2 linked regions of the Homo sapiens genome follow. Each later gene encodes a partner of the first gene's protein in a complex. Each region holds a gene or a part of one and is shown on either strand. Other genes may lie near its edges. The genes, in order: TONSL and MMS22L.

Region 1 (14,984 bases):
TCCCCACCCATAAGAAGGACATAATGGATCTGCTTGCAAATCTGTACATCGTGGGCCTGAGTGGATCAAGAGAACACTAAGCTCAGGAATTCAGGGAGCTGGGTGGGAAGGTACAGATGCCAGGAACTGAGGTGTGGGGAAGGGGTCTCACACCAGCACTCGGGGGCCTTCCTGGAAAAGGCGGCCTGGCCCTGGGAGGTGAAGGGGAGGGGGCACAGGAAGAAAGCAGAGCCCCGCTTCGTGCACATTCACTTAAGCCCTCATCCCCTGGAGGGCACAGCCTGCCCCGGCCCCAGTGGGGCAAGCCAGGTCATCAAAGCCCTTCCTGGGGTTGTCTTCCAGACAGCTCAGGTTGGGGACTGCCCTGATGTGGCTCAAGAGAGAACAAGCTAAATCAGACCACAGCCCTGGGCAGGGTTGTGTCAGAGGAGCCCCTGCCAGGAAGTAGGAGGGTCCCTTGGCAGCTTTCAACACCCTGACCTTGGGATCCCTTTTCCTGCCAGGGACAAGAAGAAAGTCCCTGTGGAACAGGGTCTTGCCTACCATAGTCTGCTCTGAAGGTTGGGTTGGAGAGACCAGAGGCAGATACCCACCTCGCCCCCTAACCCATGGTTTTAGGAGCTGGGATCATGCCCCTTTTCTGTCACTGTCACTCTGCCCCCTGCTGCCCCAGCCTCATGGAGCCCAGCCTTGCTGCCTGGCTGGTAGCAGTGACAGCCCCTTAGGAGGAGGCACCTGGGTCTCAGGCAGGTCCCTGAAAAGGCCGAACATGGCAGGCGTGGCCACCATACCAGCACTCACCTGACAGGCCAAGGAAGCTAAGGCCTTGGGGCCGCTTTTGGAGGGTGGACAGGAGCTCTTCCAAGCTGGCACAGCTGATCTCAGGGTTGGCAGACAGATCCAGTGAGATGAGTGAGGGGCACAGAGAGAGACATCTGAGATAACATGGGAAGAAGTGCAAAGGTTGGCTTCCAGAGAGGCTGTGCCCCAACACTAGGAAAGCTGCCCAGACAAATGCCAGCTCAGGGAGCCTCGGGCCAGACCCAGGGGCTCTGCCTCAGCCTGGCCCAGTAGCAGGTGGCCCTCTAGGGTTGGGGGTCCTTCCCAGGGGTCAGGGCCACAGTGGCCAGCTCTGGGTGTGCCTGGCCCAGCTTGGGCTCCTCTCAACACTCCCCAGAGAGCTGACTGAGGCTCCAGGTCATAAGAGCAGTGCCCTCATGTGGGCCGAGGCACAGGAATGACAAGGACACCCCCGGAGGAGTGCTCTCAAGAGCCACAGGCCCATGCTAAGAAAGAAGCCAGAGGGTAGTCTGCCTTCCAGGGCAGCCTGAGAGGCTGGTGGAAACCGAAGGAGCCAGGTCTTGGGATGTGCTGGGGAGGAGGAGCTGGTACCATTTCTGTGGCCCTTCTCCCATAGGGTCCAGAGCCATGAGATCAGACCCCCAGGTCAGCAGGCAGCAGGGAAAGGGCGTTACCTGCACAGGTCTCTAACAGCCTTGTCCCCCAGGTGGTTTGCAGACAGGGTCAGGTGGGCTAGAGCACAGCCTTCCTGGACATGAGCAGAGGCCCAAGGGGGCCAAACGGAGTGGCGCACCTGCCCTGCCTGCTTCCCAGCAGGTGCACCACACCCAGGGGCCCAGAAGGGAGCAGAGTCCCCCATCAAGTTGGAGATCGGAAGGAAACACCTCTCCTGATGTGGGTCACACTCTGCACGTGATAGTGTGAAAATAATAGGGTCCCAGTTGTGCCTGGAAGACCCCCCAGGAGAGAGCATCAGGGGCCCTAGTGTGCCCCTTGGGACCTTCCTGGCGGGGGGCAAGATCACCCTGAGTCCCGGGTCCTATCTGGTGGGCAGGAATTCACAGCCTGAGACAGGCAGCTGTACAAAAGCATTCCCCCAGCTGTTTTTTTCTTTTTTTGTTTTTTTTTTGAGACAGAGTCTCGCTCTGTCGCCCAGGGTGGAGTGCGGTGGCGCCATCTCGGCTCACTGCAAGCTCCGCCTCCCGGGTTCACGCTGTTCTCCTGCCTGTCTCCCAAGTAGCTGGGACTCCAGGAGCCCGTCACCACGCCCGGCTAATTTTTTGTATTTTTTAGTAGAGATGGTGTTTCACCATGTTAGCCAGGATGGTCTTGATCTCCTGACCTCGTGATCCGCCCGCCTCGGCCTCCCAAAGTGCTGGGATTACAGGCGTAAGCTACCACGCCCAGCCTGTTTTTTTCTTTTTCTTTCTTTTTTTTTTTTTTTGAGACGGAATCTCGCTCTGTCACCCAGGCTGGGTGCAATGGTGCAATCTAGGCTCACTGCAACCTCTGCCTCCCGGGTTCAACCAATTCTCTGCCTCAGCATCCCGAGTAGCTGGGATTACAGGTACCCGCCACCACGCCTGGGTAATTTTTGTATTTTTACTAGAGACAAGGTTTCACCATGTTGGCCAGGCTGCTTTTGAACTCCTGACCTTGTGATCCACCCCCTTCGGCCTCCCAAAGTACTGGGATTACAGGCGTGAGCCACCGCGCCTGGCCCCCCAGCTGTTTTTTCTAAACCTCCAAACCTCTAACTCTCTCTGTAGAGCCCCTCAGCGAGTTCAGCCCGAATCTGGGGAGAGGCGAGCTCCTCCCAGCAACCCTGGGACCTTTGGCCTCTGAGGCTCAGTATTTTCTGGGTTCTTCCCCACCTCGTACCTTGGCCAGGTATCGGAATACAGGCTCCATGAGGTCCGAATCACCCTTGCCGGCTGCCACGGAGCTGAGCTCTAAGTGCAGGAGGGTGCCGGCGGGCAGGCTCTGCAGGGTCCTGGCCAGGGCAGGGGCTCCCAGGGCGTTGTAGGACAGGGACAGGGTCTTCAGGTGCTCAGCATCTGCACCGGGGCCAGAATCCGTCAGCCCCACGTGGCCACAGCCCTGTACCCACCCCAAGTTCTGGGCCCAGAACCCTCAGGACCCCTTTGGGGAAACCACTACCGCAGTGCTCGCAGGGTGGGGTGGCAAGTGCAGAGGCAAAGGCTCTCGCCCAGATTCTCCCAGCTGGGAGGGCGGGGCCAGACTTCCAAGCTCGGCTGCCCCCAGTTCTGGACAACTTGCCCTCTCCCACCCCACAACCACACGGTCCTGGGCCACATGCCTCTGCACAGTGGGGGTGCCAGGGGAGTGCACTGACCATTGCTGCCCCCCTTACACTCCCCCTGGATGACACCCAATTCCCAGCCTCTTGGCACTGGGACCCCAGTCTCTGCAGCCTGAGTGGGCTCACAGTGGAACTGCCTCAGGCGAACAGCACTCAGCTGGCGAGCACGGGATGGGGACCACAGGACACTAGCTGCCCGGACTCTGCTCTCGGTGTGTCCTGCGGGGGTCAGCCTGGCTGGGTGGGCACCAGACGCCCCTCGGAGGCAGACCCTGTACCCACACATCCATCTATTGCTCCCAGGTGCCAGGCCCTCCCGGAGAGCCAGGTCTGGCATCCCAGGCCCCTAGACGTTGTTTGTTTCGTTTTTTTGACACGGAGTCTTGCTCTGTCGCCCAGGCTGGAGTGCAACGGCGCGATCTCGGCTCACTGCAAGCTCCGCTTCCCGGGTTCATGCCATTCTCCTGCCTCAGCCTCCTGCGTAGCTGGGACTACAGGCACCGGCCACCACGCCCAGCTAATTGTATTTTTAATAGAGACGGCGTTTCACCGTGTTAGCCAGGATGGTCTCGATATCCTGACCTCGTGATCTGCCCGCCTTGGCCTCCCAAAGTGCTGGGATTACAGGCGTGAGCCACTGCGCCCGGCCTAGACGCTTTTTTCTTAAGGGATGGGGTCTCACTATGTGGGCCAGGCTTTCCTGGAACTCTTGGCTCAAGCGATACTCCCGCCTCAGCCTCTCAAGTAGCTGGGACCACAGGTGTTGCCCCTGTGTGCCCAGCCTGGGCCCCCTCTGAAAGTCCTGGAAACCCTCAATGCCCCAGGGCTAGGGAGTGGACAGGGAGTGCCTGGTCAGCTCACCTTGGAAAGCACTACCCAGTGCTGTCTGGTGGCTCAGAAAGAAGCTGGGGCCGAAGCCACACGCCTGCAGGCGCAGGGTGCTGAGTAAGGGGCAGGCGTGCAGGAGGGAGGCCAGGGACTGGCCACAGCCGTCCCCCAGGGGGTTCATGCTTAAGTCCAGCTCCTCCAAACTCTGTGGAAGACACAGGCTGGCAGTGAGCCCCCAGCAGTCCCACGGACAGGGTCCCCCTTGGGGCTTGGCTTGGCAGTCTCTTCCCCACCTTGCCTGGCATAGCCTATTACAGCCGGGCACTGGCTGGCTCTCCCAACTACCCTAGACCACCCAGGGACCTGCAGAATGGGAACCCCAACTCCCCGCTGTTGAGGGCCTGCTGCTCTCTGTGCCTATACCTGCAAGGTGGCTTGGCCTGGGAGCCCCATGGCAAGCTGGCGCAGGCCTTCGGGACCCAGGTGATTGGAGGAGAGGTCAAGGAGGGCCAGGCTGGGCATGGTGCCCAGGGCAGCCACCAGCTCAGCCACACACTTGTCCCCCAGCCGGTTCCCTGCCAGGCGCAGCTCCCGGAGTGCTGTGTGCAGCTTGAGGGCCCGCAGCAGGGGTGTAAGCTGGGCCTGGTCCAGGGCCAGGGAGCAGGCGCTGAACGAGAGGCCCAAGCCCTGGAGCTCCACGGCCTGCAGCACCTGTTGGTGCTCCCCTGCGGGAGGGATGTGATGTCACCAGGGTAAGGCCGGCCCTTTCTGCCCTCTGAATCCCAGAGGGCAAACCAGGCAGCCCCTTTTCAACAGCCCCAGGGGTCACCCACCAGACTTGCTGTAGAGCCCACTCGCACATGCCTGTGGGTCTAGCACTGTGAGGCCCTGGGGGCCGGGGTGGGTCTGCAGCACCCTGAGCTCCACCAGTCACTGCCAGATTCCACACCCCCCGGGACAAGCTTTCTGGGAAGCTTCCCCAGCAGCTCCCAGCCCATGCCAGGCCCTCCTCCTTGGGTTTGACTTTCCAGGCTTTCGGCTGCTTTTTGCCATCTCCCTGTCAGCAGATCATGGGGGCTGAGGGCTGTCCTCTCCCTTCCACCCACACATCCAAGTGCAGGACACAGCACCCACCAGGCTGGGGGAGGTGCACCCCAAAACACCCGAGGCCCAGGAATGAACCGGGCTGGTGGAGCCTGTGTGCCCAACCCCCTTGTACGACCTCACCCAGAAACTGCAGCTCTCCTGGCCCTCACCTTGCCCCAGGCTCTGGCAGGCCCTGCGGTAGCGGTCAGTCAACGGGGGCAGGTCCCACGAAGTCACCTCAGCCAACACCTGGAAGGCACCGTCATGAGCCACCTGGGGGCTCCCCCGGCTCACCTCATCATTGCTCTGCAGCCATGAGCCACCCGGGGGCTCCCGGTGCCTGAGGCCCTGGCTCCCCCTCCGCTCTGCGGCTCACCTCGTCATTGCTCTGCAGCACATCAGGGATGAGGTCCTGTGGGGCCAGCAGGGCCCCCTCTTTCCGTAGGGTGAGCCTGGGCAGCAGCCCGCAGGTCTGGTAGTAGCGCTGGGCCGCCTGCTCGGCCAGCCAGGCCACAGAGTGGGTGTCACTGCTGCAGGGACAGAGGCGCTGCTGCTGCTGCCTGCACACAGCCGGGGTAATGCCCCAGGGACCCGCCATCCCTGCCCAGGGCCAGAAGCCCCCTCAGCTGCTTCTCCCATTCCCAGGTAGCCGGCCCCTCCTCTCCCTGCAGCCCAGCACACCACCAGCCCCTCTGCTATTCCTGGGGGCCACAGGATCCTCCTGGAACACACCAGGGAGCCCTCGTCACACGCCCCACCCTGACATGCAAACACGAGCACCCTGGCATGGAGCTGCACAGGTGGGCTGCGGGGTAGGGCAGGCGATGCCTCACCTGTGTGGGACAGGGATGAGGAAGAGATGATCCTGAACTTGAACTCGAACCCGGATGGGAGGGGGCGGGGCCGGACCCTGGCAGGTGAAGGCAGCAGGGCTGAGTCAGGAGCCACAGTGGGCTCCACCCTACACCTGCCTGCCCGGAGTGGGGAGAGGGCTCTGCTCCAGGTCTGCATACCCACCAAGGGCTGGCCTGCCGCAGAGCTGTCCCCACTGGGCTCTGAGACCCTGGGGGTGCTGGGGCTCCCTGGAGGTTCTGAAGCCAGGCTGCTGGGCCCTGCGTTAACTGGCGCACTGCAACTCTGCATGCAGGTCAGGCGGACCTGCTTGGCTCGGGCACGGGGCCTGCTCTCCTCACTGTCCGACCCAGAGGTACTACTGGGCCTGCGGTTGTCTCCAGTGCCCCGGGGGCGGGGCCGGCGGCTGCGGGTCAGGGGCATGTCCAGCTCCAGCCAGTCCCCGGCCAGGCACTCCTCCTCCGGGATGAGCGCTGCCTGGGGGGCAAGGGCTTTGCTGTGGCCCCGCGGTGGGCCAGGCCCCAGCCGGCTCTGAGCACTGCCCACACCCCGGATGGCTGCCTGGTAGGCTGCCCGGCTGGTGCTGGCTGTGGCTGCTTCCCTGTTGCTGGCGGGGCCAGGCGTCCAGGCTGCCACCCGTTGTGCTGTGGCCGAGCACCGAGGCCTCTTCTGGGACGGCCGTGCGGGGCCTGCGCTGTCCTCGCCTTCTGAGCTGCTGCTGCTGCTGGCTGGCCCATGCCTGCTCCTCCGAGGCCTGGCCATGGCTGGTGCCGCCTGCCCTGGGGAGACCCTGACATGGGCCTGAGAGGCCTCTGGGAGTCTAGTGCTATTAGAGGGGGGTTCTGGGCAGGGGCTCAAAGGAGGAGAGGTCTCGGGGTCAAACAGAAGGCTGCTTGGGGTGTGGAAGGCCTGGGAGCTGTGGGGATCTGTGGGAGAGAGAATGCGTGTTGAGGCAGGGGCCCGGCACCTCCCGCTCCACCTGTGATGGAGCATCTCCCGAAATCAGGGCCCGGGGACTCTCAGCGTAGGCACAGCAACCCCAGGGACAAGGGACGCCCTGCTTGCCTTGGCCCGAGGCAGCCGCCTGGAGCAGCATCTCCATGGCCCTGGCCTTCTGCCGCGTCTCCAGGTCCAGGTCCCTGCGGTACAGCTTCACCCACTGCTGCAGCGTCTCCAGCGGGCTGAGGCCCTGTGTGGCATCAGTTGAGCAGGGGCACAGCAGCCCCCATAACCTCGCCCTTGCCCTCTGCCCCACCAGGCTCACCTTTCGAGTGCGGAGGGTGACGGACGCCCCCCGTTCAAGCAGCAGCTCAGCCACCTCGAAGTGGCCACAGTTGAGGGCATCGTGGAGGGGGGTGATGCCTTCGCAGCCCTGGCCACCTGGGTCGTCCACTGCGGCCCCGTGGTCCAGCAGGAAGCGGACAATTTCTGCAGACCAGGAGACGTAAGCCCAGCTCCCGATGCCCCGCCAGGACTGACTCTTCGCCCCACGTGTCCACCAAGGTGCGCCAGGCTCCTTCTGTCCCTTGCTCACCTAGATGCCCGTAGTTGCAGGCCTCGTGCAGAGGTGTCCAGCCACAGTAGTCCCGAGGGTTAAGGGGGTGGCCCTGTGACCAAGGACAGGAAGGAGCCTGGCCCTGTGTACCTCACAGCCTGGCCCCAGCCCCGTGAGCTCTGCAGCCTAAGCTGAGCCCAGGGCCTCAGTCTTAGAGCCCAGAGCAAGTCCGTGGCCCTGCCCTCTCCTCCTCCGGCCTAGGTGTCACCAGTGAAGGACATGCTTCCCCCTGAGACAGGTGGACCAGCCACAGCATATCCTCCGCCTCTGTGCCTGCCCGGTCCCCTTGTGGGGAGACAGTGCACCTGGTCGCAGGGGCATGAGGCAGGCGGGGCGGGAAGGTGCCCAGATCTCAGCCCATGGGCTAGCCCCCATCCTGGCCAGGCTGACCAACTTAGCTGTAACACAGATGCATACCACACAGCAGGTACCCCATTTTTTTTTTGAGACCAGCCAGGCTGGTCTCAAGCTCCTGACCTCGTGATCTGCCCACCTTGGCCTCCCAAAGTGCTGGGATTACAGGTATGAACCACCGCGCCCAGCCTGGGCACCCCATTTTTTTGTGTTTTTTTTTGAGACAGAGTCTCGCTCTGTCACCCAGGCTGGAGTGCAGCGGCGCAATCTCATCTCACCGCAACCTCCGCCTCCCAGGTTCAAGCGATTCTCCTGCCTCAGCCTCCCGAGTAGCTGGGACTACAGGTATGTGCCACCATACCCAGCTAATATTTTTGTATTTTTAGTAGAGACAGGGTTTCACCATGTTAGCCAGACTGGTCTCAAACTCCTGACCTCAGGCAATCCGCCCGCCTCAGCCTCCCAAAGTGCTAGGATTATAGACATAAGCCACTGTACCCGGCCTGTGGCTTTTCTTCTGAGACAGGGTCTTGCTCTGTCACACAGGTTGGAGTGCAGTGGCAAGATCATGGCTCACTGCAGCCTCCACCTCCTAGGCTCAAGCAACCCTCCCACCTCAACCTCCAAAGCAGCTGAGACTACAGGCACACGCCATCACATCCACCTAATTTTTAAATTTCTTGGAGACAAGGTCTTGCCAGGGTGCCCAGGCTGGTCTCGAACTCCTGGGCTCATGTGATCTGCCTGCCTTGGCATCCCAAAGTGCTGGGATTACAGGCATAAGCCACCCCGTGCAGCCTCCGCTTTTTAAATTTTTTTGAAACAGGGTCTCACTGTGTTGCCCAGGCTGGAGTGCAGTGGCATGATCGCGACTCCTGCAGCCTCAATCTCCCTCCCAGGATGAAGTGATCCTCCTGCCTCTAGGACCACAGGCAAGTGCCACCATGCTTGCTAAGGGGCCCCATTTTGAAGATGAGGAAGTTGAGAGTTACAGAGATAGGGGATCCGGCACAAACGCACAGCTCCTCCATGCTAGGCAGCCTGTCCCACGTCCCAGAGCGGGGCCCACCTGCCTCACAAGGTCCTGGACGCGGCGCAGCTGGCCCTCGATGCAGGCTCGGTGCAGCAGGGTCTCCCCCATGTCGTTTCGCCGGTTCCACTGTGGGCACAGCCAACCCAGCACAGGGCAGGGGCGTGAGGAGCTGGCAGGGCTGCTGAGCGGGGTGGGTGGGGGCAGGGCACTGTCCTCACCTTGCTCCCCTTCCGCCGGCCCAGGTGGCCCTGAAGCTCCTCGTCCTCCTCCAGCTGCGGGGTCAGGCCATCGGTGTCGTCCTCTGGAACAGAGCCAAGCCCACCCCAGGGGAGTCCGTGGGAGGTGAAGGTTAGCAGCCCCCACCCTGCTGCAAGCTCCCCAAACTCCCAGGTACAAAGGAGCCAGAGACGGGAGGGCTGAGCTCTGAGGCTGCTGGGCTCTGGGGGCTCCTCAGCAATGGTCCCAGCGCTGCCTCCATGTCTCCCTGACCCTGCTGGGACCCTGCTCCTGCCCACCATCCCTCTGCCCACTTGAGACACACCCCTGAGCTTTCTGCCCTAACCCACGCCTGGCCCTCCCACAGAAGGCCTGCCCGAGGCCCCCTCTGTCCATGCGCCAGCCACTCATCCCCACGCCCAGACCGGCTCGTGGGCCAGTCTTCCTCCACCCCACGCCTTATCCACCCCCATCTCCTGAGCTGTGTCGTCAGGCCAGGTCAGCCCTGGAGCCTGGGTATCCTGCACCTTGCAGCCTCCACCCTGCCTAGGCAGCAGACACACCCGCCTCCGTCCCTGCTTCGGGTGACCCCTCATCACCACGCCCTTCACACCCTGCCAGCTGCCTCTGGGTCTTTCCGCAGCTCCTCACTGTGCCCACCAGCTGAGCAGCATTCCCCAAAATTCTAGATCCTGATCCACCTCCCCCCAGCAACCAACCTGGCAAGGCCCCAACTTCCCACAGCTGCCTGGCCACTCAGGGTTCTAACGACGCCCTCGAGTTCAGAGCTGAAGTCACAGCCTTCCCTGGAACACCCCCCAACAGGCCTCATGGACAGGCTCCTGCCACCCACCACTCAGTCAGAAACCAGCCTCCCAGCTACCCGCTAACCCCGCTCTCAGCCCTCTCTCCCTGCACCACGGCCAAGATGGCTTCAGTCCAAGCCCCGCTCCAGCCAGTCCCTCATGCCTGCCCTCCGTGCAGCTGATGTCGCCAGCCTCTGGAGGAAACCCAAGCCTGCTCTGAAGGGTTTCAGGAAGGTGCTCAGCTCTTGCAGAGGCAGCCGGGGCTCTTCAAAGTGCACCGTCTCACCCCTGGCCCCAGATGGCACGTGCCTCTCTAACGGGACCATGCCCCAGCTGACACTCACTCGACTCCCAACCACTGTCTCCTCCAGGAGGCCAAGGCCGCCCCAGGCTCCCTGCGGGTCACCACCTTCTCTGTCCAGTTCCGGGAAAGCACTGGCCGTCCTGCCTGCCTGTGGCTGTTCCTGCTACAGCCCTAAGCAGGCTCCACAGCAGCACAGCACACCCCTCTCCAGCCCGGCCCAGAGCAGGCCCAGGGAAATGCAAGGTGCCGCTGGCCCTCACCGCCCTCTGAGAGCTCCACCTCGCCGGCCTCCAGGGCTTCGCTCTCCGCTGTGGCTGCCGCCTCCTCCGCCTCCTCCTCCTCATCTTCATCTTCAGCTACACTGAGCTCCCGTAGTCTGGTTTCGGTCTCAGGGGCCTCCTGGGGCTGCAGCCTCAGCTGCACGGTATGGAGATGCTGCAAGACCTGCCTCTGAGGAGCAGAGGGATGCTCAGCTCAGGACTGGGGGCTGTGGACGCAGAGAAAGATGGGGATGGGGCACAAGGGGCAGGCAGGCTGCAACGAAGCTGGGCTCACCGGGGAGCCAGTATGGGTGGGATGGGCTCTCGCACCTGCAGCTGGGGACGCTGGGCCTGCTGGGCACAGCTGAGCGCTTTCTGGAAGCACGGGGCCAGCAGCTCGTAGGCATCGCCGGCCTCCTCGCGGGACAGTGCAATGTTCAGCCAGGTCTTGGCCTCCTGGAGCAGGAGGAAGGACAGGGTCGGGGGCTGCCGCTGTCTGCGTCCAACGGGCCCCAGTCAAGCTTCCCCGGCTGCCCAGACGAAATGGGAGCCCGGCCTCCCAGCTGCCGAGGGTGGATGGTCCTAGGAAGGAGCTGCCCGTCCAGTAAGGACACCTGTCCATGGCCACCCTGAGAACGGCAGTCCTGAGGCAGAGACATGGGTGAACCTGCATTCGGGCGGGGAGCAAGGGTTTCACCTCCAGCACGTTGCCGCTGCGCAGCCTCAGTTCCTCCTCATAGTGGCGCACGGCCCCATGGTGGTCCTTCATGTCTCCCAGTGTGGTGGCCAGGGACACGTGGATGATGGCCCGCTCAGCACCCGGTCTGTCCAGCAGCTCAGCAAAACGCAGCTGGGGGCAGTGCCAGTGAGGCCAGGGGCTGCCACCCTGGCCAGGCCTCGTCAACCTCACTGGCCCTTCCCTCCCACCCAGCCGGGGCCACACACCTGCTTCTGGTAAGCCTCAGCTGCCCTGGGAAAGTCTCCTGCCTTGGAGAAGAGGTCCCCTAGCTGCTCACAGATGACCATGGCACCCTGAGGGTCTCTGCCCTCAGCCTCTTCCAGCTGTTGCTGCAGCCGGACCACTGCCAGCACTGCCGGGAAGAGGTTCATGCAGGGGGGCAGCACAGGGGGCCCTGACCCCAGCTCTACCACCTGCAAGCTGTGAGCCCTGTGGTGGCCCCCCCACTCTCTCCACACCTCTGCCTGCCTGTTGGTGTGGGGGTTAATAGCAGGGTCTATCTTGGGGACTGGTCTCAAGGGTCACAAGAACTAACACACTTAAAAACTCGGGGCCAGGTACAGTGGCTCACGCCTGTAATCCTAGGACTTTGGGAGGCCGAGGCGGGCAGATCATGAGGTCAGGAGATCGAGACCATCCTGGCTAACATGGTGAAACCTCGTCTCTACTAAAAATACAAAAAATCAGCCGGGTGTGGTGGCGGGCACCTGTAGTCCCAGCTACTCGGGAGGCTGAGGCAGGAGAATGGCATGAACCCGGGAAGCGAAGCTTGCAGTGAGCCGAGATCATGCCACTGCACTCCAGCCTGGGTGACAGAGCGAGACTCCGTCTCAAGAAAAAAAAACAACACAACATGGATGGTGCCTGGCTCAAAGTAAGGGCTGACGGCTGCCAACCTCCAATGGTGGTCTCTGCCATCAGCACTCCTGGACCACGCGTGCCATCTCCTCTCCCACCCTGGGAGGCTAGGGGTACAACTACTGTCTCCAGTTTGCCAATGAAGATGGTGGCTGCGAAATAAAAGCCCAGCTGGTCTCCTGGCCGCCCTTTCATTGCCCCTGACACACTGTGTTGAGCTCAGAGAAAAAAGGGGGTCTTCTCCTGTCAGGAAGTAGGGGTACCTGCCCCTCTTGCTGAAGCTGCTGCCTCCAAGGACAGGTGCTCAGGCCTCCTCTGTGAGGGAGAGAGCCCTGTACACACCTGGCGGGACTCCACCCCGCCCCCAGGCTCACCCCTGCACACACCTCCCAGGGCCCCATTCGCACCCCCAGGCTCACCATGCTGGAGGTTCTGACAGATGGCTGCCCTCTGCACAGGCTTCTGGGAGCCCAGCCTGTAGGCCTTCTTCAGGGCTCGCTTGGCAGCCAAAAAGTCTCCCAGGTCTTGGAGGACCTGGAGAGCAAAGGACAGCAAAGGTTTTGCAGAATCCCCAAGGCCCGAATCTACGAGAGCCTGAGCTCGGAGCCACGCACAGCGGGTACCTGTGCAATAACCACGCAGCACTCGCTCTCCATGAACCGCTTCCTCATGGTGTGCGCACACTCCCGGGCACCCTCCAAGCAGCGCATAGCCTGGGAGTGCTGGCCCGCGCGCCAGTGGATGGTGCCCAGGTTGTAGCGGGCGCGGAATAGGTCCTCGTAAAGGTGGTTCTGCCTGCAGAGGGGTGACGACCACTGAGCACCCAGGAGTGTCCATGACAGCTGCTGATGCCACACGGGCCCCAGCCCTGCCATGCTGTGGTCTCAGGGCCCTAACCATGCCTGGCCTTCTCCCAGTGTGTGGCACAGGTGTGAGAGGTGGGGGGATGAGGCCCAGCCAGACTGCTCTCTCAGGAGGACTCTGGGAAAAATACTCCCCTAACTACTTCCTCCAGGAACAAGGGACTCCACTCCCTCCTGGGGCGGGGCAGGGCCTTACTCCGCAAGGAAGATGCTCTTCCTGAAGTAATCGTTGCACAGGGCTGTCTGCTGCAGGCTCTCAAAGGTGAGGCCCAGGTTGAGATAGAGGCGGGTCCTCATCTCATTCAGCTCTCCCTGGGCCAGTGTCCCTGGAAGATACCCCCCCAAACACTCAGCCACTTCCTCCCCACATGGGGTTTCCAGCTTTGGGCCCCATTTGGGGCCTGTGCAGCGCCTCTCCTACCCCCTCCCTCCTCCCGAGGTGGGTGCAAGTGTCCTGCGGCAGATGGAGCACAGAGTGGATAAAGAGCTGACGATCTCCAGGGGAAAGGTTGAGCGGGGCATGCACCCCTCACACAAGAGCCTTGCAAAGGGAGGGCTCCAGAAGACGGGATTGCCCAAGGAGGCTGCGGGGGTGCTGGGCTGCAGCCTCTTCGGCCCGAAGTTCAGGAGGCAGAAAACGCGGAGGGGTCTGCCCACCCTCCAGCTCCTCATCCACAATAGCCAAGCTCTTCTCAAAGGCAGCCTGTGCCTGCAGCAAAGCATCCCTCGACTGGCAGTGGTCATAGATGTCCAGGTGGGTGCGGCCGATGGTGGCCCAGGCCCTCTGCAGCTCCGTGTGGTTGCGCAGGGAATGTGCCAGCTCCAGGTACTGGTGCTGGTGCTGAGTGTGGAAGGAAGTCACTGCTGTGAGCCGACTCCGCCTCAAGCAAACCGGCACCGCCAGATTCCCAGAGACCCTGTTCTTGCTAAGGAAAGAGCCTGCTCCCCCTAACCCCCACAGAGCAGGCCAAGGCCAGACACGTGCCCCTCCTCTGCATGCCAAGGGCTCTCTGTGGTGACAGTGGCTTCACGCTGTATGCAGCCAACGCTGTCACGTGGGGAGGGGCAGCTGGGAGTTGGCGGGGGGGTTGCAGTCCTGCCTCCAGCAGCCAGGGTCAGGGAGAGCTTTTGGGATGGGGCCTGACCTCCCCCAACACAAACACAGCTAAAATAACGTTCAGTAATGGTTTCTGGTGCCAGGAAACCTACTCCTGCCCCAGTCCCAGGAAAGGCTGTGGGGTCCCCACCGGAGGACTGGCCCGGGGCGGTGAAGGCAAGGCTGCGTCAGGTCAGGTGTCCCCTCCAGCCCGAGGCTCCTGACGGCGAAGACCAGGCCTCCCTCCTCAGAAAAGGGCTCCAGAGGCCGACCGGGCTGGACGAGGCCAGTGAGGGCGCCCGCACCTGCAAGGCAGCCGGGTAGTCCTCCATCTCGGCCAGGCGCTCTCCGATCTTGCGGTGGGCCACGGCACAGCCCAGAGGGTCGTCAGCGCGCTCCCGAAGCTGCAGCTCCTGCCAGTGCTGCTCCAGAGCCTCGGCGTAGCGGCCTAGGCGGGGGCACAGCACGGCCTGGCAGGCGTCGCGGGTGCGAGGGCGGCCCTGGGGCGGCGTCTGCCGGAAGAGCCCGTCGCCCCCCGGCCCCCGATCCCGGCCCGGGCCCGGGCCCCGGCCCTGCCTCCCGCCTCCTGGTCCCGGCGCTCACCATGGCCGGCCAGGAGCTCCCCCAGCTGGTGGCACAGCGCGGCCTCTTCGCGCCGCTGCCCGGCCCTCTGCGCCTTGGCTTTCGCCTTGCTCAGCTCTGTGGGAGGAAGAGGAGGGCTGGGCCTCCGCGGCGGGGTCCGGGGCCGGGGCCGAGTCCCAAGCCCTCCCCAGCCTCCGCGCCCCCGGAGGAAGGGGTCCCCGAGGAACTTACGGCGAAGCTCGCGCTCCAGGCTCATGCTCGGATCGCCGCGGGATCCGGACTTCCCGCGCTGCGCCGCGGCCCCGCCCCTCGCCGCCGACACGCAGGCCCCGCCCCTCGCCGCCGACACGCAGGCCCCGCCCCTCGCCGCCGACACGCAGGCCCCGCCCCTCGCCGCCGACACGCAGGCCCCGCCCCTCGACGGCGGC
Region 2 (15,676 bases), on another chromosome or scaffold:
GGTTAGGAAAAAATACAGAGTGTGAAAAAGGGTAAGGTAATTTATGTACAAAGAAGGGTAAGGGAATGCATGGGAACTCTCTGTCCTTTCTGTTCGATTTTTCTGTAAACCTAAAAATTCAAGCTGGGTGCAGTGGCATATGCCTGTAGTCCTAGCTACTCAGGAGGCTGAATTGAGAATGAGAGGATCCCTTGAGCTCAGGAGTTTAAGACCAGCCTAGGCAATATAGCATGACTCCATCTGTAAAAATAAAAGGTGAAAAAAATTTTTTTTAATAATCCTAAAAATGCTCTAAAAATAAGGATATTAGTTAAAAGATATATAGAGAGCATGAGACGTGAAGGGTGCTTATTATCATTTGGTTAGATTTGGAATCAATGTGACTATTTAAATACAAGAAAACAAGATTTGTTTTGTTTTGCTTTATTGGTTGATTGACTGATTGATACAGACTCTCACTGTGTCACCCAGGCTGGAGTGCGGTGACCAATTTTGGCTCACTGCAACCTCTGCCTCCCGGTTTCAAGTGATTCTCCAGCCTCAGCCTCCCAAGTAGCTGGGATTACAGGCGAGCACCACTACCACCTGGCTAATTTTTGTATTTTTAATAGAGACAGGGTTTCACTATGTTGGCCAGGCTAGTCTCAAACTCCTGACCTCAGATGATCCACCTGCCTCCGCCATTCAAAATGCTGGGATCACAGGCAAGAACCACCATGCCTGGTTGCTTTATTTTTTTTCAATTTTTTAAATTTTTTCAGAAACAGAGTCTTGCTCTTTCACTCAAGTTGAAGTGCAGTGGTGCAATCATAGCTCACTGAAGCCTCCAACTCCTGGGCTTAAGCAATCATCTTGTTTCTGCCTCTCAAAGTGCTAGGACTATAGGCATGTGCCACCATGCCTAGCTAATTTTTTAAATGTTTTGTAGAGACAGGGTCTTGCTTTGTTCCCCAAGCTGATATTGAACTCTTGGCTTGAAGCAAGCTTTATTGTTTTTTTAAAAGTATGCTATTAGTTATATTAATTATCTATTACTATGTAATAGGTTACGCCAAGACTTAGTGGCTTGAAACAACAAATTATCTCATAGTTTCTCAAGATAACAAAATTTTATTATCTCATCTAGAAATCCGGAGGTGGGCTAACTGAATCCTTTGCTTCAAGGACTTTCACAGGTGCAGTCAAGTTGTCAGTCACCATGGGTGACTGGCAGCAATGTTGCTAAAATAGTTTAGCCAACCGTGAAGTTGGGGGCAGACAGTCCACACTACCACTGCCCTCAATTTTCACTCCAATTATAGGTCCAAGGGGTTCTCAAAACCACCCTAATCTTTGATAATTTGCTAGAGAAATTCACAGAACTTATTGAAAACTATTATATTCACAGTTATGGTTACAAGGAAAGGATACAGATTCAAATCAGCCAAGAGAAGAAACCCATATGAGAAAGTATCAAACTTCTGTTTGGTGAAACTTCTGTTTTCTTTTCCCAGTGGAGTCACGATGTGTTACTTTCCCAGCATCAACGTGTGAAAATATGCACAGAATACGGCCAACTAGGGAAGCTCACCTGAGCCTCAGTGTTCAGAGTTTTTAGTGGGTCCTCATTATGCAGGCATGTTAGAGTGATTACCCACATGGTTGATCTCAGTCTCCAGACTGATATCACGTGACTCAAAGACCCATCCTAAATTACATTTTTGATCTTTCAGCCATGGCCAACTGCCAGCCCAAATCACACTGTTAGATTATCCTGTATGATCCTAGGCCCCAGGCAAAAAAGACACTCTTATCAGACACAACATTCCAGAGGCTTAGAAATTACCTCTCATAAGCCAAGGGCAAAGGCCCAGACTCCTTTTTGGACAAGATTAAATTATTTACTATATATCTCCATGAGCTATCTATTGTATTAGATACAATAGATACAGGCCTAGTCATCTCAAATCTCAACTGCAGAAGAATCTGCTTTCCAAACTCGCTCAGATGATTGTTGGCAGAATTCAGTTCCTTGTGGACTGATGGACTGAGGACCATGGTTCTTCACTACCTATTGTCCAGAGTCTGCTCTCAGTTTTTGCCATGTGGGCCTTTCTAACATGGAAGTTTACTGCATCGAAGTGAACTAATCAAGAAGCTGACAGGGGAAGAATGTTAGTGAGAGAGAGAGTTCTAGCAAGATGTAATCACAGTCTTTTGTAAACTAATTGTGGAAGTGATATCTCATCACTTTTTGCCTTATTCTGGTCAATAGAAGCAAGTCTTTAGGTTCGGCCCACACAAGGGGAGAAGACTGCACAAGGACATGAATACTGGCAGATATTACTGAGAGCAATCTTAGAAGATGTCTATCACAGTAGGCTTTGGGAAAGAAGACAGGAGAGAGGGAGTGGTTGAAGGTTGAAGAAATAGTGGTAATTGAAGGATCAAGCTCCTGGAGGTAAAAGAAAATGGATTAAGAGCACAAGCAGGAGGGAAAGATGATAAAGCTATAGAAAAATGAATGAGGATCAATAATGGAGTTTTTCTTGTATGTAGATTTTTTCAAAGTTCTATGTGGTGTATTCCCTTGTTAATGACTAAGTGCCTTGAACAGTTGTATGAAAAGTCCTTTTCCTTTTATAGGAAAGTTGTTCCTTCTTAACCAACTACATTTCTCTGTTGCTACTGAAGTAGTTGTTTAAATCATAATATGTGTGCCAGGGAGTAGCACTTGAGAGGTTAAGAGTTCATTATCTGTTGCACAAAATTAGTGCATTAAAATACTGTGGGTCAACAGAAAGTCAGCTTACAGTAGGTTGTATAAACATTTACAATAGATAGCTCATGGAGATAACCTAGTATTTTCAATAGCACAGCACAGAACTAAAAGCCATAACTAAGTTGAGCTATCTCAGTGTATCCTCAACAGTGTCCAACTGTAATAATAAGATCATTAGAACTGGAGTTAATATTGGTCAGATATTGCTACAATGTTGAATCCAATTCTAGACTTAACAGCAGTTACTATAAAGTGGTAAGGTGATCCTCATTTACATTTAAGGGATAAGAAGGAACAGTCTTAAACTTTAAATAAGATTTCAATTAAAATCATAAACTTTCTGAAACTGAGACCTTTCAATCAGTGGAATATATCATATTAAGTTGAATTTGTGAAAAGTTTCCCTCCTACAAAACATGACATTCATATTAAATTGTTTGACTTTGAGTCTGATACCTGAAAACACAAGAATACATTATTAAATAGATGGTTTGTGGGTATATTTTTTAAAAAGCAGCAAGTTAGAATGGGTTCATTTATTATACAACATTCAAATTCTATCATATGTCCTCCCTGTTTTTTGTTGTTGTTGTTGTTGGTTTTCTATTTATTTATTTATTTTTGAGATGGAGTCTCGCTCTGTCACCCAGTCTGGAGTGCAGTGGCACGATAATGGCTCACTGCAACCTCTGCCTCCCGGGTTCAAGCAATTCTTCTGCCTCAGCCTCCCGAGTAGCTGGGACTACAGGTGTGTGCCTCCACAACTGGCTAATTTTTGTATTTTTAGAAGAGACAGGGTTTCACCATGTTGGCCAGACTGGTCTTGAACTCCTGACCTCAAGTGATTCACCTGCCTTGGCCTCCCAAAGTGCTGGAATTACAGGAATGAGCCACCGTACCTGGCCTGTCCTGCCCTCTTTTACCAAGTAGCTGAATGGTGCTGGAGAAAATGACAAAACCATGATGACTGAACTCTAATTTTTTGTCACAAATCTCAAATGATAACTCAACACTTCCAGACATTCTTATTATCTTTGCCTAGTAAATATACTTTTCTACTCACCAATATGACAATATTGCACCTCTTCTCTAATTTCTAACAACTACTCTTCCTTCTCACTTCCAGTTGATGTGTCATAGAGAAATAGGTGAAATAAAACAAAAACAACTCAACATTCCAACACGTAGTTCACCACCTCCAGCCATCTTATTCTGTATTTTTAAGATTTACTTTTTTTTTTTACTCTTCCTATTAGGATAAAAATTTTTTCTTGAGCCTATCAGAGGTTGATATGTCATTTGTGTAATGAATACTATCCCCTCTCATCTTTTCAATGCCTTTATTCTTGCAATTATTCCCCTTCTGTTCAGCATCTTTTTTCTTTCCATTTAATAACTGCCATAGCCTCGCAAACATGTTCTAACATCTTTTATCTTGAAAATACCATTTCTTGATCCCTATATGTCCCTCTGTCCTATTTTTATGCTTTATTTTCAATTAAATTCCTGGGTAAAGTTTTGATATTTGCTGATTCACCTCCCATTTTCTATATGACCCACTCCTATCAGATGTTTTTCCCCAACTACTCAACTTAAACAGCTTTTATCAACATTAGTAATGACCTATTTCTTGCCAATACCAATGATTAATCTGTTTTCCTTTATTAGCTTACCCATTCTTTCATAAAATACTTCTCTTGGATTTCATGACAGACATCATACCATACCACACACACTTGATTTTTCTTCTGTGGACTAGCCTTATTTCTTGCTTTTCTTTGCTGGCATTTTCTTGATTACTAGCAAGCTGAATATCTAAAAGTTTTTAAGAGTTTTAGCTTTTACATGTAGGTCTATGATCCTTACTGGGTTAAATTTTATAATATGAGGTAGGTTCATTTTTAAGTGTATCAGTATCCAATAGTTCTCTCACTATTTGTTGAAAAGACTATCCTTTCACCATGGAATTACCTTTGCCAAAAAGCAGCTGATCAAACGTGTATGGGGGCCTGTTACTGGAGTCTCTATTCTTTTCCACTGGCTATGTCTACCCTTAGATCAAAATCATACTGTTTTGATTATTGTAACTTAATGGCAAGTCCTGAAATTAGGTACTGGAATTCTTTCAACACTATTCTTACTCAAAATTGTTTCGGTTAATCTAGGCCCTTTGCATTTCCATATCAGTTTTGGAATGCATTTGTCAATTTCTACAAAAGAAAGTTCTCTGGGATTAGGATTTTGATTGGCAGTCCTTTGAAGCCATAGATAAACTTCAGAAGAACTTTTAATAATATTGAGTCTTCCAATTTATGATTATGCTATCTCATTCTATTTACTTGAATATTCTTGAATTTTTTTCAGCAATATTTTGGAATCCTTGGCAAACAAAATCTGACGCATATTTTGTTAAATTTAAACCTTGTTTATGTCATTAAATGGTGTTGTTTTCTAAACTCTAATTTTCAAATTGTCTTTTCATGTCTATAAAATACAATTAATTTTTGTGTGTCACTGAACCCCGCCACCTTGCTGAACTCATAGTTTTTATATATATTTGTAGAGATTTTTTTAGGATTTTCTATATGAATAATTATGTCATCTGAAAATCAAGACAGTTTTACTTCTTCTTATTCAATCTATATGACATTTATTTCTTCATCTTCCTTATTGCATTGACTAGTTACCTCCAGTAAAATGTTGAGAGAAGTGGAAAAAGTGGACATCATTGCCTTTTTCTCAATCTTAGGAAAAGAACATACATTTTTATAACTAAGTATGATATTAATAGCAGGTTTGTCATAGATATCACATATAAGGTAGGGAGTTTTCTTCCATTCTTAGTTGGCAGAGAGTTTTTATCATGAATAGATGTTGAATTTATCAAGTGATCTTTCAGTGTCTATTGAGATGACAGTTTTTCTTTTTATAGACTTGATATAATGAACTGATTACTTGTAGAAATTTGAATAACCTTGCATTCCTAACATGAATCTAATTTTCTTGTCATATGTCATCCTTTTTGTTTGTTTGTTCTGAGGCGGAGTCTTGTTCTGGAGTACAGTGGCGCGATCTCGGCTCACTGCAACCTCCCCATGCCGGGTTCAAGCGATTCTCCTGCCTCAGCCTCCTGTGTAGCTGGGACTACAGGCACATGGCGCCATACCCGGCTAATTTTTGTATTTTTAGTAGAGACGAGGTTTCACCATGTTGGCCAGGCTGGTCTTGAACTCCTGACCTCAAGTGATCCACCCGCCTTGGTCTCCCAAAGTGCTGGGATTACAGGCGTGAGCCACTGCACCTTGCCATCATATGTCATCCTTTTTATGTACTGCTGGATTTTGCTTGCTAACATTTCTGCTTTTATGTTTGCATGTGATATTGTATTGTAATTGTCTTTTGTCAGGTTTCGATACCAGTGTGGTGCTAGCCTCATAAAACAAGCATCCAATCTCCTAATTTCTCTAAGAGTTAGTATAGAATTGGTATTACTCCTTCCTTAAATGTTTGGGAGAATTTAATAGTAAGGCCATTTGGCCTGGAGAGTGTTTGTTTGTTTTGTTGCTTTTGAGAAATGGTGTTGCTCTGTTGTCCAGGCTGGAGTACAATGGCACACTCACAGTTCACTGCAGCCTCGAACTCTCCAGCTCAAGTGATCCTCTCACCTCAGCCTCCCTAAGTAGTTGGGACTACAGATGAGCACCACCACGCCTGGCTAATATTTGTATTTTTTTTGTGGAGACAAGGGACAGGGTTTCACCATGTTGCCCAGGCTGGTCTGGAACTCCTGGTCTCAAGGGATCCACCTACTTCAGCCTCCCAAAGCCACTGTGCCTGCCCTGGCCTGAAGTTTTCTTGTAAGAAGTGGTGTGTGTGTGTGTGTGTGTGTGTGTGTGTGTGTGTGTGTGCAGAGAGAGAGGAGGGAGGCTTAACCAAAGATTCTGAGTACTACGATAAATACAGAGATACTCAAATTTTCTTCTTTTGTTGATTTTTGACAGTTTGCGTCTTTTAAGGAATTTGTCCATTTCACCTATGCTTATTGGCATAAAAATGTTCATAATGTTCTTTTAATATCCTTGTCCTTTTAATGACTAAATTTCATAGTGATGAAACCTTTTTAATTCCTGATACTGATAATTTGTTTATTTTCTTTATCAGTTTGGGTAGGGGGGTTATCAATTATATTGCTCTTTTAGAAAAACAACTTTTGCATGTATTTCCTTCCATTTATTTCATCCCATTTATTTCTACTATTTATCATTTCATTCATTTTGCTTGCTTTGGTTTCAATATGCTGGGGGTTTTTTCTAGTTACTTAAGACAAAAGTTTATTGAATTGAGTTCTTCTTTTTAATGTAAGCAGGTACTGTTACAAATTTTAGTGTTTTCATTTTAATTTAATTCAACGTATTTTCTAATTTTCCTGTGATTTTTCCTGATTCACAGGTTAGTTAGAAGTATGATTCTTAATTTCCAAATATTTAGAGTATTTCAAGTATCTACTTTATTTCTAGTTTAATGCCATTATGATCAGACTATACACTTTGTACGATTTAAATCTTTTTAAAGTTGATGACATTTGTTTTATGGCTCGGAATATGGTATCGCTTAGTGAATGTTTCATGTGCACTTGACAGGAGTGTGTATTCTGCTATTGTTGGGTTGGTCACCTATAAACGTCAATTAGGTCAAGTTGGTTAGTGCTTTCCAAGTTTTCCATATCCATACTAATTTTCTGTCTACTTGTTCCATCTGTTACAGAGAAAATTAATTGTTGCACTTGCCTGCCTCACAGTCCATGGACAAAAGGCATCTGCATTCTAACAAGAGTTGCTGGCCCCAGAGCGGGAAGAGGGGACGGCGCGACTGTGGGTGTGAACGAGGCACTCACTTCGCACTCACTGGAGTAAATATCTTCTCTTTGGTCCGGCCAGAGGATAAACCCATAGTCCTTAAGTCCTCTCCTCCGCCTCAGCAGCAGTTCTGTTTTTTTTTTTTTACCAGGCCCCGCCTTTCAGCCGAACGCACCAATTAAAGGTACAAAAAAAAAAGTTTCTCAGTACCTCGTCCCGGACTGACGGACTCTCGCGAGAATTCGTGGGGCTCCGACTGTTTCCGCGCAGATATCGCGAGGCGATTGGTAGCCGGGGGAGGGCTGCGCCGTGGCCCCGCCTTTCCGGAGCGCGGGCGCGCGGTGGCGGGAATTTCGCCTGTTTGCGGTTTAGACCCCAAAGATTCCTGTTGGTGGTCTGGGTCACAGGAGGCAGGTTTCGGGAGCTGGAAATGTGAGCGGGTACGACAGGCACCGCGGGTAACCGACGCCCCGGGTCCTTGCTGCAGCCGGGTACGCGGGATACCGGCACCCCGCCTTCTCCGCCCGAGTGCTGCCAGGCGTGGGCCTGGTGGGTCTCGCCTCCTCCTTGGAGGGTCGGGGTTGGCCCTAGGGGTTGCTTTCCTAATTTCCACCCCGAGCCGGGGAGGGAGCGTTCTCCACCCTGCTGCTGGGAAACGGGCGGAGAGTGGTTTAGAAACGTTGCGGAGGGCGCAGTTCTAGGCAAGCCCGGGACGCTATGTCCTGCAGACATTTCTTTGCTTTTCACCTTGTCCTGGGCTGCAGAGCCCGACTTAGTGGCCGGATTTCGAGGTCCCTGCCACAGCCAGTTGGTTGTGCATTTTGTCTTAAGTTCTGACAGCCTTGATGGACGGAGGGCGAGGGGGAATTGGGAATTTGGCCTCTGGGTTTGTTCGTTTGTTTTTCCTTCCTGCTGGCGGACGTCTTGAGAACTTTCTGAAGTAATCCCCACTCTCTCGGCCCCACCCCCCCCCCCCCAACAGGAATCTCTTCACACCTTCTCTTTGGAGCCCTTAATGATACGACGAACCCCAAGTGTTTCAGAACATGAAGTAAACAATGGAGAACTGTTCTGCTGCATCGACGTTCCTGACTGACAGCTTAGAGCTGGAGCTGGGGACGGAATGGTGCAAACCTCCTTACTTTTCTTGTGCTGTTGACAACAGAGGAGGAGGAAAACATTTTTCTGGAGAATCCTACCTCTGCAGCGGAGCCCTTAAGCGGTAGGTAAAACTCAGAGACATTTTCCCTCATCTGATTATTCACCAGTTTTTTAGGAATGTTAGTTATTTCAGCCCATTAAACTTTGGTGTTCACCAAGTCGTGTTTTATAAATCAGCTTAGTATATCATAAGGGTACAAATGATTATCAGTTCTGCTGGCTTCTTGGTAAGGGCATATCTAAAGTATTTGGGGTATTAGGGAAAACTTCCTTGGTAACTGATGTTCCCTTACTGTAGGGAGCTGGGCACTAATTTTTCTTCTACTTAAAATGAATTCCTAACTATCTGAGCCTTTTGCAGTAGTATTTCCTTCTAAAGAGTGTGATAATATTCTAGAGCTTTCCAGTAATATTTAAGAGAGACAAACATTTTTTATTGCCCCTGTTCCTTCTAATCCTACCTGCACATATAGAAGTGTATAGACTTATTTTGCCTTGGGCAGGTACATATATATTACAGTAAAACTGTTCTTGAAATATTTTGGTAATACCTGCTGAGGCAGTTTCAGTGAGGAAACTATTTTTGTTGACCTTATAGTTGTACCTTGTTAGAAATCTTAAATAGAATACTCAACTTCATTAGTTGGATACTATTCTCCAGACATGGCTCAGAATAACTGTTAGCAGTTTTAAAATTAAATGTCCCCTCAAAGGATGAAATTCTACAACTGAAGACTACTGGTGAAGACAGGCAGAAATATGTTTTTTAGAATTCTTGTTGATTTTTCCTCTTAAGTTACATTACACTTTAGTCGTACATTTTATCAATATAGAAGATTGACGTTTTAATACAGTCTAGCTATTGTAATCTTGAATGTGTAAAGTACCAAGGCATTTTCTGACTTTTTATACATGTCATGTATAATATGGATTCAAATAATGTAAAGAAAAGAGCCGTCGTATTATGGTACTTAGTATACTTTTTATGAGATTGAAACAATTTTCATTTCAGATTGATTTTGAATCTTGACCCTTTACCAACTAATTTTGAAGAAGATACCTTGGAAATATTTGGCATTCAGTGGGTTACTGAAACAGCATTAGTGAATTCATCTAGAGAACTCTTTCATTTATTCAGGTATTTCTTCGTTATAACTTTCTGTGAGTGTAGGTGTTGTTCACTTTTGTAAATTACGTTGTTGGGTGGCTTCTAATACTGATATTACAAAAGACCAGAGGAATTGTGCTGGTTGCTCACTTGATTATCTTACCAGTAACAATAATCAAGCAGCAATGCCTGATGAGTAATGGTTTTAATGAGTTGCGTTTTCAGAATCTTTATTCTTTGCATTTGACACATGTATTGACAAATATTTAAGGCTTTGAACTATAATTTTTAGAAGAAAATTAAAATATTTTTGTTGTGCAATAGCCATAGTCTTTCAGTGATCTTTAGAGTATGGTCTTAACAAATAAATTGTTTAGACTGTGTAATAGAAATATTAATTATTTGGACAACATTTAAAATTTTTTTAATGAAAAATTTTAAGCATACACAAAATAATAATATAATGAACATCCATATACCCTCCTTCAGTTGCAGTAAACAACAACTTTTTATTACATTTCCTTCATCTGTCTTGTCTCCTCTTCTTTTGGCCTAAGTATTTGTAAGGAAATCCTAGGCATCATGTCGTTTCACCCATAAATACTTCAGTATGAATTTCTTAAAAATATGTGCTTTTTAAAAACGATGAGGACGGCCAGGCGCGGTGGCTCATGCTTGTAATCCCAGCACTTTGGGAGGCCGAGGCGGGAGTTCGAGACCAGCCTGACCAACATGGTGAAGCCCCTTCTGTACTAAAAATACAAAAATTAGCCAGGCGTGATGGCATGCGTCTGTAATCCCAGCTACTCAGGAGGCTGAGGCAGGAGAACTGCTTGAACCCAGGAGGCGGAGGTTGCAGTGATTTGAGATTGCCCACTGTACTCCAGCCTGGGTGACAGAGCGAGACTCTGTCTCAAAAAAAAAACTCATCTCAATTAATAAAAATTAAAGTTCTTCATTATCATTTAAGACACAGTTCATATTCAGATTTTAGGTAATTTTAAACAGGAGTCAGTTATTGAAAGCTAATTATTCCAAAACACAGTAAAAATCTATATGTGATACATTTAAAGGAAAATGGAGAGGTGGAAGGAATTCTCTCACCATCATCCCATGAAACCTTTTGAAGAGACTTAAACTGTATCTACGCCATGTCATACGTTTTATTGATAGAACAGGCTCAGTGAGTGATCCTCTGTAATCCTGAAGATTACAGAATGAGCGAGTCTTTATCTAGGACATAGGTTATAAATATGGGTTAATTTTTAAAGACTTTGAAATCAACTAGGAAGAATAGCAAGAAATTGCTATCAGGAATTAAGATGGAACATGATAAATAACAGCTTTCCCTGATACTTTAGTCTACATTATTCCTTTTTTGAACTTCTATTGTATAACTGTATGATACAGTTTAAAATTTTATTATGTAACTGTTAACCTAGAATGTTTTATGTATCTTAAACTTCTTTTTTTTTTTTTTTGAGAGGGTGTCTCACACTGTCACCCTGGCTGGAGTGCAGTGGGGTGATCTTGGCTCACTGCAACTTCCGCCTCCCGAGTTTAAGCGCTTCTTTGCCTCAGCTTCCCGAGTAGCTCGGATTACAGGGTCCCCCCACCACGCCCGGCTAATTTTTGTGTATTTTTAGTAGAGATGGGGTCTCACCATGCTGGCCAGGCTGGTCTTGAATTCCTGACCTCAGGTGTTCCACCTGCCTTGGCCTCCCAAAGTGCTAGGATTACAGGCGGGAGCCACTGCACCCCATCTTAAACTTCTTTTTTTTTTGAGACGAAGTCTTGCTCTGTTGCCCAGGCTGGAGTGCAGTGGTGCGATCTCTGCTTACTGCAAGCTCCAGCTCCTGGGTTCACACCATTCTCCTGCCTCAGCCTCCCGAGTAGCTGGGACTACAGGCGTCCGCCACCATGCCGGGCTAATTTTTTCGTATTTTTAGTAGAGACGGGGTTTCACCATGTTTGCCAGGATGGTCACGATCTCCTGACCTCGTAATCCGCCCGCCTCGGCCTCCCAAAGTGCTGGGATTACAGGCAAGAGCCACCACACCCGGCCGTAAACTTAAAGATATAAACAGTATCTTGCTGATGGTGAAGGCTATGGTATTTGAAATAATTTTTGAGATATATGCAGTCTTTAATAGATAATTTTGGAAGGTCAGGCAAAGATGTATTTTATCTTTTCTTAAAGTTTTCATTACCTGAAGCTGATCCTTTAATTAACATTCACAAGGTATTAATCATCATCCCCAAATTAAAGAGGTATTGAAGCTGTGTAATTTGGAAACATTGTCCACGTAATTGTTACATGCTTTAAAGTGTTCTAAAATTAACTCTCACCTTACATTTTTAAAATTAGGCAACAACTGTACAACTTGGAAACCTTGTTACAGTCCAGTTGTGATTTTGGTAAGTTTAAGGTGTGTTTAATGCAAAAGGGAATGGTGCTTCATTATAGTGAGTTGCACATGGGTCCATGATGGTATAATTGGCATATCATGATAATACAGAGGAAGCATTAGGCCAGAAGTTTACGAATTTAGTGTTCAGAAAAGTATGACTTTTTAAATTTTGTTGTAGCTGAGATATATAGTATTTTCCCAAATCTGTAGATTTTAAAGGTAAAACCGACTTAAGCTAAAATTCTCTGAAGAGAATTAGTACTTGTTTTGGAGGTAGGGAGTGGGATAGAGAACTTAAATGAGAACTAAACAGTGCCAGACCTCATGCTGTCTTCTTGATTTTCTTTTCTGCTTTCTGCTTTTGTGTTTGCTTTTGGTGTGTGATGGATTACTGATTTTTTTTTCTTTTGTTTAGATTGGTATAGTTGGTTTTTTTTTGCTTTTTTTTTTTTTGATAGGGAGTTCTGCTCTTTTGTCCAGGCTGGAGTGCAAAGGTGCCATCTCAGCTCACTGTAACCTCTGCCCCCCGGGTTCAAGTGATTCTCCTGCCTCAGCCTCCCGAGTAGCTGGGATTATAGGCACCTGCCACCACCCCCAGCTAATTTTTATATTTTTAGTAGAGATGGGATTTTGCCATTTTGGCCAGGCTGATCGCAAACTCCTGACCTCAAGTGATCCCCTGCCTTGGCCTCCTGAAGTGCTAGGATTACAGGCATGAGCCACCGCATGTATAGCTAAGGTAATAAAGGGAATTGAAGGGCAGTGTGTTTTAGTGCAGTCTGGCTGCTTCTCCTTTCTAGTAATTTTGGTGCAGTGCAGTGTTTAGAATCATGGCCTTGTCACCCTGGCTTCCAACCCTAGCTAATTGTGGGTCTTACGTCAAGTAATAGTTCTAACTTTGTTGAGCGTGTTAAGTGCTTAACACAGTGTCTACCATTATTGATGCCTAGCAACCAAAGACTACCTGGAACACTTTTGGTCAAACAGAGGTTTATTAGATTATGAAAAAAGGAAAAATACACATTACAAGGAAAAGCTGGGGCTTGTCAGTAAGAGGGAGTAGGAAGGGACTTGTGATATGTTTGGGGCTCATTCTGGTGATTTTCCGTAGGGCTTAAGGGGGATAAGGCTATATTCTGGATTGGATGCTGTTAATTAGCAGGGGCAATTTGAAGAGTGGGTATTTTAATTTTTATCTAGGAGGTGAGACAAACAAAGGGAGCATCCTAATTAGTAAAAAAGTATTGTCCTGGTCACTGGAAGAGGGAGGATGTGTTTTTTTGTTCATTTTGTGTGTGTGTGTGTGTTTTGTTTGGAGTGTGTGTGATTGCATAGTGCCATGTTTTGTATTCAGACATGGTTACAGAGGTTTTGTTTTTGTCTTGTTTCACTGTAATGGAGTGGCCCTGTATCATTATTATTTATTATTATTATTATTTTTTGAGATGGAGTCTCGCTCTGTCACCCAGGCTGGAGTGCAGTGGCATGATTTTGGCCCACTGCAACCTCCAGCCCCCTGGGTTCAAGCAATTCTCCTGCCTCAGCCTCCTGAGTAGCTGGGATTACAGGCGCACACCACCACACCTGGATAATTTTTGTATTTTTGGTGGAGATGGGGTTTCACCATGTTGGTCAGGCTGGTGTCGAACTCCTGACCTTGTGATCCACCCACCTCGGCCTCCCAAAGCGCTGGGATTACAGGCGTGAGCCACCGTGCCTGGACTATTTTTTATGTTTTATGAAAATTGTTTATTTTCAGTAGGGGATACCATGGCCTAGCTGTTAGCTATCAGCTTTTAGGCTGTTTTATATTTTTTGTTTTCTTAATATGTTACGTGATTTGTAAATGTTAAGTATTATTGTTTCATTATCATCTGATGGGTCCCTGGTTCATGCCAGGTACTTTGCAAGGTACTGACGAATCAAAGAGGAAAAATATGCTGCTGATGAGTTTGCAGTTGTGTAGACAGCTAGACATGCAAGCATACATCAGCTTGGTAAATGAAAAGGTACGGTGATAAAGGAATGTACAAGCTGCTGTGGAAGCCAAGGGCTTTGTCTATCTGTGAGCTCCTCACTAAATGATGCCAGATCTGGGTCTTCACAGATGGGAAGAAATTAGCTAGGCAAAAGATTTGGGAAAAGTTTTTCGGACAGGAAGAATTCCAGGCAGAAAAAAATAAAACTGTATAAACAAAGACGTGATGTGTGTAAAAACATAAAAGTTTAGAGAGCATGGATTAAATATTAATTACATATGGTTGGATCAGAATGTGTGTGAGTGATGAATTTGGAAGGGATAAAAGCAGAGTTGGCTTTGTAAACCATGACAGAGAGTATGATTTTTATTTTGGAACTCCTGTGGAGCCACTAAAAGATTATAGTGGAAAGAACCAAAATACCTTTACCTTTACGTAGAATAACTTAAGTAAATTGGGTTCATGGAAGGCATTTATTATGATAGATTATTATTATTACACTTATTAACCTGAAACCACTGCAGTGGACTATTTGTTAAGATGGTTGTTTGTTACACTGACATTTTGGCTGTTTTTGTTGCTTAAAAAAGCTTTTAATGACAGATTTTGGACAAGTTAGTGGTGTTAAATATTATCCATACATGAACATGTCCCTGCCATGTAGCTGTGTTCATTAACTTGTGTAGCTACCCTTGGACCTCAGCTGTGCCAAGAAGTCCCTATGTAGTTACTTACTGCCAGATGAGTATAGTTCTTGTTCTAGCCATTATGCTTCCAGGGTTAATTTCCAGTTGAGGCAGAATAACATACTTAATGACATGTTTTGCTGACAGCTGTTTTTTTTCTCTCTTTCCGTCTCTTTGTCTCTGTCTCAAGACAGGGTCTCACTCCATCGCCCAGGCTGGAGTGCAGTGGTGCGATCATGACTCACTTCAGCCTTGACCTCCTGGGCTCAAGCAGATCCTCCCATCTCAGCTTCCCAAGTAGCTGAGACTACAGGCTCACGCCATCATGCCTGACTAAAATTAATTTTTTGTAGAGATAAGGTCTCACTATGTTGCCAAGACTGGTCTCAAACTTCTGGGCTCAAGTGATCCTCCCGCCTTGGCCTCCTAAAGTGCTAGCATTATAGGTATCACCCACCACACTCAGCCAAGAGCTATTCTTAAATATAATTGTTGGTGTTACCCTGTCTCAGCTATTGTGTGTGTGTTTTTTTTCTCTAGACATTCCTTATGGATTTTTTAAAATGTCTTCTGTTTCTGACTTCATGCTTGTTTTCATCCATCTTGAATATATGGAGTATACATTATAACCACTGTTGTTGCTGCTATTAATAATTCTTCTTTTTGAGAGGGCATCTTGCTCTGTCACCAGGCTGGAGTGCAGTGGCGCCATCT

Evidence for each region.
Region 2: TONSL (region 1) and MMS22L share a complex: the UniProt entries of both Homo sapiens proteins name them as parts of the MMS22L-TONSL complex.

The regions. Positions count from the first base shown.
Region 1 is NC_000008.11:144,429,603-144,444,586, forward strand, and holds the start of TONSL (tonsoku-like protein), read right to left. Parts: upstream 14,839-14,984; 5' UTR 14,813-14,838; coding exon 14,788-14,812; intron 14,674-14,787; coding exon 14,578-14,673; intron 14,423-14,577; coding exon 14,280-14,422; intron 13,720-14,279; coding exon 13,536-13,719; intron 13,205-13,535; coding exon 13,075-13,204; intron 12,811-13,074; coding exon 12,639-12,810; intron 12,550-12,638; coding exon 12,435-12,549; intron 11,510-12,434; coding exon 11,364-11,509; intron 11,305-11,363; coding exon of another isoform or gene 11,269-11,304; coding exon 11,116-11,268; intron 10,875-11,115; coding exon 10,749-10,874; intron 10,609-10,748; coding exon 10,419-10,608; intron 10,292-10,418; exon of another isoform or gene 9,874-10,291; intron 9,181-9,873; exon of another isoform or gene 9,134-9,180; coding exon 9,051-9,133; intron 8,959-9,050; coding exon 8,869-8,958; intron 8,732-8,868; exon of another isoform or gene 8,626-8,731; intron 8,145-8,625; exon of another isoform or gene 8,097-8,144; intron 7,498-8,096; coding exon 7,425-7,497; intron 7,394-7,424; exon of another isoform or gene 7,319-7,393; coding exon 7,155-7,318; and 25 more. UniProt on the Homo sapiens protein: Component of the MMS22L-TONSL complex, a complex that promotes homologous recombination-mediated repair of double-strand breaks (DSBs) at stalled or collapsed replication forks.
Region 2 is NC_000006.12:97,275,477-97,291,152, reverse strand, and holds the start of MMS22L (protein MMS22-like), read left to right. Parts: upstream 1-7,936; 5' UTR 7,937-8,057; exon of another isoform or gene 8,058-8,166; intron 8,167-8,599; 5' UTR 8,600-8,675; coding exon 8,676-8,839; intron 8,840-9,790; coding exon 9,791-9,916; intron 9,917-12,254; coding exon 12,255-12,304; intron 12,305-15,676. UniProt on the Homo sapiens protein: Component of the MMS22L-TONSL complex, a complex that promotes homologous recombination-mediated repair of double-strand breaks (DSBs) at stalled or collapsed replication forks.